Regions from separate parts of the Homo sapiens genome. Here region 1 is linked to region 2. The links come from fine-mapping of genetic effects on gene expression. Tissue or cell type: whole blood. Region 2 holds a variant in brackets; the other region holds the start of a gene. All regions are shown on one strand. Distances are from middle to middle.

Region 1 (2,679 bases), 92 kb after region 2:
CTCTTGGGCACCCTGGTTTTCCATCTTCCTGTGGGATTGGCCAGTATTCAGGGAAGAGGGGACCAGGGCAGCTGATAGCTCTGGACTCCTCAGACTGAGTTTGCTGGAGTAACACCCCTCCTGCCCCTCCCCCCTGGTCAGGGAAGGCGCCTGGCTTCCAGCTGTGAGACAGGCTCCGCAGGACTAGGGACCCTCCCCGCTGGCTGAGAGCGCTAGGGAGGGGGCTTCCCCTGTGAGGTGCAAAACCCGGCCTGGATTTCTGCCCAGACGGCCCCGCCCACTCCAGGGCCCCACCTTCCCCACTGTTCTGGAGGAAGATCCCCTAGCCGGCCTCAGGCACTTGCGGTGACTCACACCCCCCACCCCTAAGTCTGAATGTTGAGAGCCCCAGGCTAAGACCACTTGCCTCTGCCACTTTCCATGTGACTGAGGCAAGACCTCCTTGCCAAGGCCTCAGTTTCCCCCTCTGTACTTCAAAGGAGGCAGCTCAGGCAGGTGTCTTAATAATTTAAACGACGAATATTGCTAAAGAGATAAGGGGCGGGGAGAGAGAGAGATCACTGTGGGCCATGGTTAGGGAAGGGTGGAGGAGCTGGGTCCTGAAAGGGTGGACTTTGGTCGGGTGGAGAAAATAGCCAAGAAGGCAGTCCCTGCTGGCAGCACAGCAAAGAGAAGTGAGAATTAGGGGGAGCAGAGGTGAGGCTGGAGGGGACTTTGGTTGGGGCAAGATTATTTGGGGTCCAAATAACAAGGATGTTTAGACGTATTGCCATTGTGCTCTGGGGAGCCACGGAAAGCTCTTGAGCTGAGGAGTGACTTGGAGAAAGTTTTTCAGCCAATGCAATAGAGGGAGTTGGTACCTTTCCTTCTGCCACCCTGAGTTTCTGGTGCCTACGGTAGGGTAGGGATTGTTCTGCCCTGCCTTCAGTGCTTTGAGTGCTTGAAACAGACACCGTAATTTTAATTACATAAAAATGATACGTGTATCAGACGGGACAACCTTTAAAACGTAAAGAAGAGGCAAGTATCCTGCATCACAGGGGAGTCTTTCAACCTGGCTGGGCCAGGGCCTGCGGAGCAGTGAGGGTCGTTTCTCAGCCCAGCGAGCCTGGGGCAGGAACGGACCCTAATTGAAGGTGACCGTCCCCAAGCATGCGTCCTACCCCGGGCTCCGGAGAGCGCACAAGCAGGTGTGCACCGTCTACCCGCGCTGGCGGGATTGGGTGCCTGGTGCGCCCTCAGGTCGACGGTCGAACCCTCGGGGGCGGGGGTGGGAGCCAGAACCCTCGGGACGACCCGTCTGGGGTCCCGGGGAAACTCCGGGCCGCCTCGCCCCGCCGATTCCAGGCCGGGATTTCTCCCGCACTGACTTTCCGGGCCGGTGCCAGCCCGGCCTCCGGGTCCCCAGCCCCCGCCGCGGGGCCGGCTGCTCGGGGAGCGGGAGGGGGCAGGAGGCGGAGGAGGAGTTTGAGCGACTTTGTGGGGCAGCCAGGGCCTCGGCGGCCGCTCGGGCGAGCGCGGGAGAACGCGTGGGCGCCCGCCGGGCTGTCCGGAGCGGCCGATGGGGCCCGTGTGAGCGCGCCCAGGCCCGGCCCGGTGCCCGGCGGGCGGCAGCATGTCCGCGGGCGGCAGCGCCAGGAAGAGCACCGGGAGGTCCTCCTACTACTACCGGCTGCTGAGGCGGCCCCGGCTGCAGCGACAGAGGAGCCGCTCCCGCAGCCGGACCCGGCCTGCCAGGGGTAGGCGCCACCCCGACCCCTGACCCCTAGACCCTCCTAAGGCCACTAAGCCACCTGATGCCCTGGGATGCTAGGGACCGGGATCCTCCTTCCAGCCATTTGCCGGGGGTTTCCTCATCCGCCCCTTCCTGAGTCTGCCGGACCCCCCATTCCCCCAGCTTCTGCTTAGTCCTCCTCTCGCCGGGGGAAGCCGAGGCTCTAGGGTCTCCTCTTAAGCCAGGGACAGGGAGAGGGGAGCCTGGAATCTTTCTCCGCATCTCAGATCAGACCTCCTACCCCACTGTGCCTCAGTTTACTCAGCAGCCGGGCAATAAAGTAACCCAGGGTGGATCTGAGCTTTCCCACACCTTGCCTTCCCAGCCCAGGCCGCGGACTTCTTTCTTCCCTTTCCAGGAACTTAACGGGCTCCCCACCTCTTGGGTGCTAGGACAAGTGGGTGGACCTCAGGGAAGGAACCGTGACCCCTCGAGCGGGTGGGCGCCAGCTCCTTTGCAAAGTTTCTCTCCATCAAGCTCAGGAGGCAGGACGAGACGGAGGGGGAGGTGCGAGCAGCATTTTCTTTTTCCAGTAACAGGATCCTCGGCTGGAAATGCGTGTGATCCCGGGGGCTGCGTTTGGGCGGGTGGTGGCCGGGACTTCCTTCCCTGGCTGAGTAGGAGGGAGGGAAGCCCCTGGGAGGAGGAGGCCTTCAAAGGGGCTCTGGGGAGGCTGGAGTCCTAGGCAGAGGTTCAGGCCCACCGAGGGTGCCCGTGGGGTGGAAGGGAGGAGAAAGACGGCGCCTTAGCAGGGACCTGGGCCGAGTTGACACCATCAGGTTATCTTGAAAGTGGGAAGCCGGGCCCTGTGCCAACAAATGCCATGCAGGGAATCTGGTAGACCAAGAGGGGCCACATTCCCACCCTGCAGGCTGCCGTTGTGTGACCTGGGCTGAGCTGCCTCT
Region 2 (2,679 bases):
GTTTAATAATTCCACCTCACATTTGTGCAGCACTAGGAGGAGGCCACAGGGCATTGTGGTTGAGAGTCTGGGCCCTGGAATCAGCTGTGTGTTGGGGGAGGGAGTGCCAAGTTATTTAACTTCCCCAGCCGCACCACAGCGGAGGACTCAAATTTCTAACCCAGCCCCAAAGCGTGGTGCCTGTCACATCCTCCCTCTGTGCGGCTGATTAGCCACTTCCTCCTCTGAGCCTGGGTTTCCTTGGGACAGTTGGGATTCCCTGAGAGGACGTGGGAACTCACGAGGACCCTAGGCAAGCACACACATGGGGCAGCTGGCTGTCTGTGGCCCCTGCTTGCCCTGGGGAGCCGATGACAGGGCCGCCGGCAATGCACCCTCGTCCCCTGGGGCTGGCTCAGAATTCCTAAGGCGGTGCCAACCCTTGGTTCAAGGCCTTTAGATGAGTCAAGAAAGCCTCTGTACAACAAACCCCTGTGACATGAGTTTACCCATATAACAAATCTGCGCCTAAAATAAAAGTTTGCAAAAATAATAATAAAGCAGAGACCACCGCCTCCCTAAATGCGGGGGCTGGAGAAGGACAGTTGTGGGAGGGGCCCGGGATGTAAGGTGAGACCACCAGGGAGCAGACCAAAGCCTGGCTCAGACATTCCCTCTTTGAAGGCCCCTTCCCACCTCCACACCTCCCTGCCACCCCCACCCAGACATACTTCTGCCCTCCTTGGCTAAGAGGCACTGGGTGTTTACTTGGGGCGAATAATGACTTCCTGTCAGGCGGACTCAAGCCCCAGCTCTGCTGCTTCTCAGCCCCTTGAACGCCTCTCAGCTTTCCTATCTGTGAAATGGGGCTCAGAAAACCTTTTTAGAAGGTTGATATATGAGGTGCATGGAGAGTACCAGGCCTCTCTGAGTACAAGACCCTCTGGTCTCCCTCCTCCCATTCTGGCCCCCGGGTACCAGCCCTGAATGAGAAGTGGGGAGGACCCAGTCCAACCAGAAAAGCATTAAGATGCAGGGAGAGCCAGGCGCGGTGGCTCACGCCTGTAATCCCAGCACTTGGGAGGCCGAGGTGGGTGGATCACTTGAGGTCAGGAGTTTGAGACCAGCTTGGCCAACATGGTGAAACCTTGGCTCTACTGAAAACACAAAAATTAGCTGGGTATGGTGGCCTGCACCTGTAATCCCAGTTACTTGGGAGGCCGAGGCAGGAGAAT[C/A]GCTTGAACCTGGGAGGTGAAGGTTGCAGTGAGCCGAGACTGTGCCACTGCACTCCAGCCTGGGTGACAGAGAAGGAACCCAGTACCTCAATAAGGGCTCCTGGATGGAGTGCATACAAGGCGAGAGGGAGTGGGGAAAAAAAAATAACAACTCAGCCAACGCTTAGTCATTCCACAGATACTTTTTTTTTTTCTTTTGAGCCAGGGTCTTGCTCTGTCACCCAGGCGGAAGTGCAATGGTGCAGTCATGGCTCACTGCAGCCTCAACACCCCAGGCTCAAGTGATCCTCCCACCTCAGCTTCCTGAGTAGCTGGATCTACAGGCGTGTACCACCAAGCCCGGCACATTTTTGTATTTTTTGTAGAGATGGGGTTTTGCCATATTGCCCAGGCTGGTCTTGAACTCCTGGGCTCAAGCGATCCACCTGCCTCAGCCTCCCAACGTGTTAGGGTTACAGGCATGAGCCACCACACCCGGCCAAATATTTTATTCAGTACATGTTTATTGGGGGCCCACTGTGCTGGGCACAGTTCTAGGTGCTGGGATACAGACTGGAGCTTCCATGAAAGTAGGGGCTGGAGAATGATACACAAATAAATATATAAATAATGTCAGGTGGGATCCGAAGGGCCAGGAAGAAAACTAAAGCCGGGACAGGGGCAGACAGAGCCATGGGAGAGGCAGGGATGCAGGGGTCATGATATCTTAGAGAGGGTAATCAGGGGAGCCTCTAAAGGAGGCAGCATATGGCCAGGACCTGAACACGGGGGAGGGGGCTCTCATCCCAAGCAGAAGAAATAGAGGGACCTGTAATCCCAGCATTTTGGGAGGTGGAGTTGAGCAGATCATCTGAGGTCAGGAGTTCCAGACCAGCCTGGCTAAAATGGTGAAACCCGTCTCTACTAAAAATATGAAAATTAGCCAGGCATGGCGGCACACACCTGTAATCCCAGCTACTCAGGAAGCTGAGGCAGGAGAATCACTTGAACTTGGGAGGCAGACGTTGCAGTGAGCTGAGGTCGGGCCACTGCACTCCAGCCTGGGTGACAGAGTAACACTCCATCTCAAAAAAAAAAAAAGAATAAGAAAAAAAGAAGAAATAGGGAAGCCCTGAGGTGAGATGCACCTGGCAGTGCAAAGAAAAACTGGGAGGCCCATGTGGTTGGGGGAGGGGGGAGAGGAAGAGGGAGAAAGGAAAAGGAGAGAAGGGAAAGGAGGAGAGAGGGAGGGAGACAAGGAGAGAGGGGAAAGAGATGGGAGGAGGGGGAGATGAGCTGGTGGGCAGATTTTGCAGGGCCTGGCAGGCTGTGCTATGGGCTATGGATTTTAGATTCACTGAGCACCTCCTCTGGTCCAACTTCTATTTTTTTTTTTTTTTTTTTTTTTTTTTGCGATGTAGTTTTGCTCTTGTTGGCCAGGCTGGAGTGCAATGGTGCGATCTCAGCTCACCGCAACCTCTGCCTC

Evidence for each region. PIP is the estimated chance that this variant, and not a neighbour inherited with it, causes the effect.
Region 1: DAB2IP starts here. The variant in region 2 is fine-mapped to the expression of DAB2IP in whole blood (TOPMed, PIP above 0.99).

What each region holds. Positions count from the first base shown.
Region 1 is chr9:121,650,161-121,652,839 of GRCh38, forward strand. It overlaps DAB2IP (DAB2 interacting protein), which reads left to right and starts at 1,474. Exons shown (of 16, transcript NM_001395010.1): 1 at 1,474-1,739. The coding sequence starts at 1,616. RefSeq lists an enhancer at 1-51.
Region 2 is chr9:121,557,969-121,560,647 of GRCh38, forward strand. All of the region lies in intron 1 of LOC107987016 (a long non-coding RNA gene), which reads right to left. Among named protein-coding and RNA genes, the nearest start is that of GGTA1, 59 kb to the left of the region's middle. RefSeq lists an enhancer at 62-356. The variant C/A (reference allele first, on the strand shown) is at 1,215.